2 separate regions of the Homo sapiens genome follow, and region 1 is linked to region 2. The links come from fine-mapping of genetic effects on gene expression. A gene starts in region 2. The other region holds a variant in brackets. All regions are shown on one strand. Distances are between the middles of the regions. Region 1 has its middle 5.6 kb from the start of TMEM160. Region 2 holds the start of NPAS1 (neuronal PAS domain protein 1).

What was found. PIP is the estimated chance that this variant, and not a neighbour inherited with it, causes the effect.
Region 1: its variant is the best candidate, but not a certain one, in a credible set for the expression of NPAS1 in visceral fat (GTEx, PIP 0.52).

Annotation. Positions count from the first base shown.
Region 1 is chr19:47,052,008-47,056,382 of GRCh38, forward strand. No RefSeq gene overlaps it. Among named protein-coding and RNA genes, the nearest start is that of TMEM160, 5.6 kb to the left of the region's middle. RefSeq lists an enhancer at 2,486-3,042. The variant C/G (reference allele first, on the strand shown) is at 1,833.
Region 2 is chr19:47,017,776-47,022,150 of GRCh38, forward strand. NPAS1 (neuronal PAS domain protein 1) reads left to right here and starts at 2,062. Exons shown (of 12, transcript NM_002517.4): 1 at 2,062-2,222; 2 at 3,231-3,394; 3 at 3,837-4,072. The coding sequence starts at 3,273. RefSeq lists a silencer at 1,999-2,058.

The DNA of each region.
Region 1 (4,375 bases), 34 kb after region 2:
CTAACCATGCCTAGGAAGGAAAGGAGTTGTTTTGTAAGGGATTGAGGTTTGGGAGATTAATTGGACACGATCAGCAGGGAGAGCACGTGTGTTTTTATGAAGAATTATGCTGAGATAGGTAACAGATGAGGATGAAATTTGGGCTTGACTGAAGTAATGGGGGCTGTCTGTGAAGCCTTGCGGCAGTACAGCCCAGGTAATTTGCTGAGCCTAATGGGTGTCAGGGTCAGTCCAAGTGAAAGCGAAGAGAGGCTGGGATGACGGGTGCAAAGGAATAGTAAAGAAAGCATGTTTGAGATCCAGAACAGAATAATGGGTTGTGGAGGGAGGTATTGAGGATAGGAGAGTATATGGGTTTGGCACCATGGGGTGGATAGGCAAAACAATTTGGTTGATAAGGCACAGATCCTGAACTAACTTGTAAGGCTTGTCTGGTTTTAGGACAGGTAAAATGGGGGAATTGTAAGGAGAGTTTATAGGCTTAAAAGGCCTTACCCATTGAGCAGGGTAAGGGTGATTAGGTTTTAATGAGATGGTAAGGGGTGCATGATCGGTTGCCAAGGAAGGAGTAGAGGTATCTTATACTTGTGGGTTAAGGTGGGGGAATACAAGAGGAGGACGCAAAGGAGGCTTTGGATTGGGAAGAAGGGCAGCAATGAGATGTAGCTGTAATCCAGGAATAGTCAGGGAAGCAGATGATTTAGTTAAAGTGTCTCGGCCTAATAAGGGAACTGGGCAGGTGGAGATAACTAAAAGGAGTGCTTTAAAGAGTATCGTCTAAGTTGGCACCAGAGTTGGGGAGTTTTAAGAGGTTTAGAAGCCTGGCTGTCAATACCCACAACAGTTATGGAAGCAAGGGAAACAGGCCCTTGAAAAGAAGGTAATGTGGAGTGGGTAGCCTCTGTATTGATTAAGGGGACGGACTTATCTTCCACTGTGATAGTTACTCGAAGCTCGGCGTCTGTGATGGTCTACGGGGCTTTCGAGGTGATCGGGCAGCGTCAGTCTTCAGCCGCCAAGCCGAGAAGGAGTCAGTCGGAGAGCCTTGGGCCAGAGTTCCAGGGGCTCTGGGAGTGGCTGCCAGGTGAGTTGAACAGTCCGATTTTCAGTGGGGTCCCACACAGATGGGACGCGGCCTAGGAGGAATCCCAGGCTGCGGGCATTCCTTGGCCCAGTGGCCAAGATTTCCAGCATGTGTAGCAAGTTCCTGGGGGAGGAGGTTCTGGAGGAACGCCTGGCTGCTGCGGTTCGGGCGTTTGGAAGTTCTTGCGTGCTGGAGATGTGGCTGGGGTTTGTCTCACAGTGGAGGCAAGGAATTGCAACTTTTTTTCTGTTATTGTACACCTTGAAGGCGAGGTTAATTAAGTCCTGTTGTGGGGTTTGAGAGCCAGATTCCAATTTTTGGAGTTTTATTTAATGTCAGGAGCAGATTGGGTAATAAAATGTATATTGAGAATAAGACGGCCTTTTGACCTTTTAGGGTCTAGGGCTATAAAGCGTCTCAGGGTTGCTGTCAAACGAGCCATGTACTGGGCTGGATTTTTATATTTGAAGAAAAAGAGCCTAAACGCCATCTGATTTGGGATAAAGAAAAAGGAGCATTAACCTTGACTATGCCTTTAGCTCCAGCCACCTTTTTAAGAATAAATTGCTGCGCAGGTGGGGAAGGGCTAGTCACGGAACGAAACTGTAAACCATACCGGGTGTGAGGAGGGGAGGTGATGAAACGATTATAGGGTGGAGGAGCGGAGGCTGAGGAAGAATTGGGACCTAGCTTGGCCTGGCGAGGAGGGGAGAGGTCAGTTGGGTCTGTAGAAAAGGAAGATTAGAAA[C/G]ACTCAGCAACGCTTGGGGTTGGGACTGAGGGGACAGGTGGGAGGGAAAGAAGGAAGATTTGGGACGAGTTGCATTGGGCACAGAGACTAGGAAGGGACTGTGATGTGTAAAAGAATGCCTGGACGTCAGGCACCTCAGACCATTTGCCTATTTTATGACAAGAATTATTTAGATCTTGCAGGATGGAAAAATTCAAAGTGCCATTTTCTGGCTATTTGGAACTACTATCGAGTTTGTATTGGGGTCAAGCAGCATTGCAGAAGAAAATAAGGCGTTTAGGTTTTAGGTCAGGTGTGAGTTGAAGAGGTTTTAAGTTCTTGAGAAGACAGGCTAAGGGAGAAGGAGGAATGGAGGGTGGAAGTTTGCCCATAGTAAAGGAGGCAAACCCAGAGAAAAGAGAGCGTAGAGACACGGAGGGAAGGGGTTCAGGGTTCTTACCCTCCAGAAAAGCAGGAAGCGGGGTCGGGGCATGGAAATAAGGGATTGGGGCACAGAGATAAGAGGTTGGGGTGCGGAAATAAGGGATTGGGGGTTCTTGACCCCTAGAAAAGCGGGACTTGCCACTAAGGGTGAAGGAGAAGGGGTTGATGGGTACTTGTCCCTTCCCCAGAAAAGCAGAGAAGGGGTAGAGACACAGAGAAGGGGTTGGGGAACTTGCCCCTCCCCCAGAAAAGCGGGACTTGCCACCAAGGATGAAGGACCAAGGCAGGCGTCCCTGCGTGGTCTGACACCTTTGAAACGTGGGTGAATAATCAGAGAGGCGTCCTTGCAATGATTAAACACCAAGGGAAGGCTGCCTTCCCAGTCCGTGACCGGCGCCAGAGTTTTGGGTCCACAGATAAAACGTGTCTCCTTTGTCTCTACCAGAAAACAAAAGGAATAGAAATTAAGAGAAGGGAGAGATTGAAGTGTGGCGCCAAGATTGAAAGGAGAAAGAGGTTGAGAGATAGTGAGGGAGGTTGGAAAAGAGTAAAAAGAGGCCGCTTACCGGATTTGAAATTGGTGAGTTGTTTCTTGGGCTGGTCTGTCTGAGGACCTGAGGTCGTAGGTGGATCTTTCTCACAGAGCAAAGAGCAGGAGGATGGGGGATTGATCTCCCAAGGGAGGTCGGTCCCCCGATCCGAGTCACGGCACCAAATTTCATGCGCGTCCGTGTGAAGAGACCACCAAACAGGCTTTGTGTGAGCAACATGGCTGTTTATTTCACCTGGCTGCAGGCAGGCTGAGTCCGAAAAGAGAGTCAGCAAAGGGTGGTGGATTATCATTAGTTCTGAGAGGTTTTGGGATAGGCGGTGAAGTTAAGAACAATGTTTTGCGGGCAGGGGTGGATCTCACACAGTACATTCTCAAGGGTGGGGAGAATTACAAAGAACCTTCTTAAGGGTGGGGGAGATTACAAAGTACATTGATCAGTTAGGTGGGGCAGGAAGAAATCACAATGGTGGAATGTCATCAGTTAAGGCTATTTTTACTTCTTTTGTGGATCTTCAGTTACTTCAGGCCATCTGGATGTATACCTGCAAGTCTCAGGTGATGCGATGGCTTGGCTTGGGCTCAGAGGCCTGACAATTTGAACCTGGGAGGCTGAGGTTGCAATGAGCTGAGATAGTGCCACTGCACTGCACTCCAGACTGGGCGACAGAGTGAGACTCCATCTTTTTTTTTTTTTTTTTTTTTTTGAGACGGAATTTCGCTCTGTCGCCCAGGCTGGAGTGCAGTGGCACAGTCTCGGCTCACTGCAAGCTCCGCCTCCCGGGTTCACGCCATTCTCCTGCCTCAGCCTCCCGAGTAGCTGGGACTACAGGCACCCGCCACCACACCCAGCTAAATTTTTTTTGTATTTTCACTAGAGATGGGGTTTCACCGTGTTAGCCAGGATGGTCTCGATCTCCTGAGCTCGTGATCCGCCCGCCTCAGCCTCCCAAAGTGCTGGGATTACAGGCGTGAGCCACCATGCCCGGCCGAGACTGCATCTTAAAAAAAAAAAAAATGGCCGGGCGCAGTGGCTCACGCCTATAATCCCAGCACTCTAGGAGGCCTAGGCGGGCAAATCACCAGGTCAGGAGATCGAGACCATCCTGGCTAACATGGTGAAACCCCGTCTCTACTAAAAAATACAAAAAAAATTAGCCGGGCGTGGTGGTGGGCGCCTGTAGTCCCAGCTACTCAGGAGGTTGAGGCAGGAGAATGGCATGAACCCGGGAGGTGGAGCTTGCAGTGAGCCTAGTTCACGCCACTGCACTCCAGCCTGGGTGACAGAGTGAGACTCTGTCTCAAAAAAAGAAAAAAAAAAAAACGGCTGGGAGCAGTGGCTCACGCCTGTAATCCCAGCACTTTGGGAGGCCGAGGTGGGCGGATCACCAGGTCAGGAGATCGAGACCATCCTGGCTAACGCGGTGAAACCCCGTCTCTACTAAAAATACAAAAAATTAGCCGGGCATGGTGGTGGGCGCCTGTAGTCCCAGCTACTCGGGAGGCTGAGGCAGGAGAATGGTGTGAACCCGGGAGGCAGAGCTTGCAGTGAGCCGAGATCGTGCCACTG
Region 2 (4,375 bases):
CTCTACAAAACTTTTTTTTTTTTTTTGAGACGGAGTCTCGCTCTGTCTGCCAGGCTGGAGTATAGTGGCGTGATCTCAGCTCACTGCAACCTCCGCCTCCCAGGTTCAAGCGATTCTCCAGCCTCAGCCTCCTGAGTAGCTGGGACTACAGGTGCACGCCACTGTGTCCAGCTAATTTTTGTATTTTTAGTAGAGATGGGGTTTCACCATGTTGGCCAGGCTGGTCTTGAACTCCTGACGTCAGGTGATCCACCCGCCTCAGCCTCCCAAAGTGCTGGGATTACAGGCATGAGCCACTGCGCCCGGCCAACAAAACATTTTTAAAAAATAGCTGGGTGGGGTGGTGCATACCTGTAGTCCCAGCCACTTAGGAGGCTAGGTGGGAGAATCTCTTGAGCCTGGGAGTTCAAGGCTGCAGTGAGTAGTGATCATGCAGCCTGGGTGACAGAGCGAGAAGACTGTGTCTCAAAAATAATTAATTAATTAATTAATGGCACAAGTGTACCTCTCATGGCTGGCATAGCACCTGCCCAGGCTGCACAGCCAGGAAGTGCTGTCAGGAGACAGGAGCCCATGATCTGAGCTTGATTCCTTGCCCTGAAACTCTAGCAAGTCTCTCTGGGGATAAATAAGGATCTGTTGTCTGAGAGGCCACTATCACCAGGCTATATCACTTCCCCATGTCTCGGTTTCCCTAGTTGTAAAATGCATCTAGTAACAGAGCCCATCTCAGAATCTTGCTATAAAATAAAGTATTAGCAAAAAACAAGCACTCCCTTAAGTGTTAACTATGAGGATCATGAATGAGTTTGTGTGTTGTGAGCAAATGCACACGGGTGTTTGTGTGTGCCTCAGTTTCCCCATCTGCCCAACCAAAGGCCAGCGCGTGCTCCCTGCAAGCCCCTGACTGTATGCCTCTTCTAAGACTCCCTGCTCCATTTTCTTTTTCTTTTCTTTTCTTTCGAAATGGACTCTCCTTCTCTGACCCGGGCTGGAGCGCAGTGGCGGGATCTCGGCTCACTGCAACCTCCGCCTCCCAGGTTCAAGGGATTTTCCTGCCTCAGCCTCCCGAGTAGCTGGGATTACAGGCGCCCACCACCACACCCGGCTAATTTTTGTATTTTTAGTAGAGACAGGGTTTCACTATGTTGGCCAGGCTGGCCTTGAACTCCTGACCTCGGGTGATCCAACCGCCCTGGCCTCCCAAGGTGCTGGGATTATAGGTGTAAGCCACCGCGCCCGGCCCCAGCTCCATTTTCTTTCCCCATGTTAAGGTCATGTAGAGGCTTTTAAGTGCCTGGAGACCCCCATGCCAGGGAGGACCCTGAGAACGGGAAGTGGGGGCTGCATGGAGAGAAGGAGCTAGGGGAACTGTAGGACCTCCTATCAGACTGGGGAAGGCCTGGCTTGGACGCCTGGGTTCCCGTCCTCTGTGCGAGGTACTACAACCCCTGAGTTCCCATTTATGATCTAATGGGGAGCTTGGATGTAAGGGTTCCCGTCCCTGCGGCGGGGGATGGAGATAAGACGCCAGGATCCTGGTCTCTGGAGCTCCTTAGAGAGCTGGATCCTGGTCCCTGACGAGGGAGGTGTATGTCCCCCTTTTAAGGCGGGTTGGGTTTGGATGCGAAGTCCCAGCCCTGTGGGGGGAGAGTGTGCTGACACTCAGGAGTTCTCTCCCGGAAAGGGAGGGTCTCGAATTCTGGATTTGTGTCCCTGGAGGAAGCACTGACGTGAGTCTTCACTCGTACATGGGGCTCGGCTGCAGGGTACCTGTCTTGTCCCGAGGGGCTGCTGGGGCACTAACTGCCTCCTGAAGGGGTGTAGACAGTGCCCGGACTCCGCTGTTCCCCTTTTGGAGTGGGGTAGCTCCGATCCGAGGTGCTACATTCTGACCCCCGACGTTACCGTGGGGCAAGGGAACTCGGACCCCAGGGTAGCTTGGCCCCCTACCAGGGAAAGGCGAGCAGGGCGGGTCCGGGGGCGGAGACGCGGCGGGCGGGGCTCCGGCAGACCCCGCCCCCGCCCGCAGCGCTGGTCGCGCGTCTCCAAGTCTGCGAGGCCGAGGTGGGCGCCGAGAGCTGGGCGCCACAGCCCGCGCGTCCCGCTGCGCCCCGCGCGCCCCGGGGTCTATGGAGCTGCCCCTCCGCGCCGCCCGGCCGGCCCCACGCCGCGCCCGGAGCCTGCTCTGCGGCCAAGTAATCGGACTGGCGGTCCTGCGGGTAGGGGAAGCTTGCGGGCTGGCAGGAGGGGGACTTCTGGGTCCCAGAGGAATGGGGGGCTGGAACTCCAGTGTCCTGGGGGATAGGGGGTGGGACGAGGGTATCCCGAGCCTGGGGGAAGGGGCGCACGGATGTTTGAGTCCTGGAGAAATCTGGGGTTGGGAGACCTGGACACGGGGGTCTGGGGCATCTGGACACCTGGCTGGGAGGTTTGGGGGCGGCCTGGTTCCTGGGGTTAGGGGGTGTTCTGAACGCCTGGTCCTGGAGGAATGAAGACCTAACTGAAAACGTTAGGGGATCAGGAGACCAGGACACCTGGGCCCCGAGTGTCGGGTCAATCCTGGGGGCGTCCTGGGGCAGAGGCTGCGGCGGCTGCGTCCGGGGCTGGGGCTCGCGCGCCGGGGTCTTCAGGGAGGAAGTTGTGGTCGTGGGGATGTGGCGGTCCGAACACGTGGCGCCATCCCGAGAGGCTGGGGGGATCCCTGGGCAGGACACAGGATGGGGGTCCCTGCCCTCTGCCCCCTGCCTCCTTAGCCCAGCCGGGAAAACAGGGTGCAGATCCGGGGAGTCAGACACCGGGGATGGGCTTGGGGGGCGGGTCCTCGGGGCAGAGGGCTCCGGGGGCTGGGGCGTGCGTGCCTGGCCCGGGAGGCGCCCGCCCCCCGCCCGGCTTGGGCATGCTTGGCACGCAGCGCGCGGGCCGGTTCGATCCGTATGCGCGCCGCGTGCGCCCATTGGTATGCGGGAGCCGGCCCGGCGCGGGCGTGAGGCGGGCGCGCTGGCGGGCGGCGCGGGGGAGGCGGCGGCGGGGCACGTCCTCACCCGGAGCGCCAGCCCCGGGCCGGCTAGGGTGGGAGCTGAGGCCTCCAGGTAGGGGAAACTGAGGCATCATCCAGGCCCCCCCCCCCCCAGCTCCTTGCTGGGACCCTGAGCCCTGCACGGATCTCAGTTTCCCTAGAAGGTCTCCCGAGGGCACTAAGCGTTGCCCCTGGCCCCCTCCCGCTGCAGGAGACTCGGGGCTCGGAGCCCGCCTGAGCGAGCCCCCCGGAGATGGCGGCCCCCTATCCCGGCAGTGGCGGCGGAAGCGAGGTCAAATGCGTGGGAGGCCGCGGCGCCAGCGTCCCCTGGGACTTTCTACCCGGGCTGATGGTCAAGGCGCCGTCCGGACCGTGGTGAGCAAAGCCCCGCCCCCCTGGCCGCGGGCCCCCCCCCGGGTCCAATTCACACCCGATGTTCTGTCCCCGTGCCAAGGGGCAGTTCACACCCAGCTCCCTGACCCGCCCCTTAGGGCTAGAAGGTCTTACCTTGAGTTAACTACCGTCCTGAGCCCGGTCCCCTGCGTTCTGCTTCTAGTCCCGGTCCTCAGAATTCACGCCCAACATCTTTAATCTCTCGCCCTTCCTCCTCCTTCCCACCAGAATTGACACTCGAGGTTCTGTCCCTGGGTCGGAGTGTAAAATCCACACTCCGGTCTGCTCCCACCTCCAGAGATGTGGAATCCACTCCCAACGTCCCGTCCCGTTCCCAAGGCCCCGGGAGGCGGGGCTCGCCCCCAGTTCCCAAGCCCCTGAGCCCCGGGGCCCCGCCGACACCTCCTCCGCGCCGCCCGCCCAGCCTGCAGGCGCAGCGCAAGGAGAAGTCCCGGAACGCGGCGCGCTCGCGGCGCGGGAAGGAGAACCTGGAGTTCTTCGAGCTGGCCAAGCTTCTCCCGCTGCCCGGCGCCATCTCCAGCCAGCTGGACAAGGCTTCCATCGTGCGCCTCAGCGTCACCTACCTCCGCCTGCGCCGGTTCGCCGCGCTGGGGGCGCCGCCCTGGGGGCTGAGAGCCGCGGGGCCGCCAGCTGGCCTCGGTGAGTGCTCATGCGCGGGGCGAGGGTCCCGGGGCCCTCCAGGCGGAGTCACTGCAGCCCAGATCCGGGCTGCGGGCCTGCCCTCGCCCAGATGCTTGTCTCTGGAGTCAGCCAGGACCTTTGCGTGTCCCTATCAGGTGGCTTCTGCTCTCCAAGCCTCAGTTTATTAAACTGTCAAATGGGCGCAAGAGGTTGGGAAGATTTCGTGAATTCTGCCCTAAACAAGGCCCTGGCAGTTCTAGTGGTCACTGGTAAATGCTATTCCTATATTTTTATTAGAGGAGAGGAATCATTATTACAACC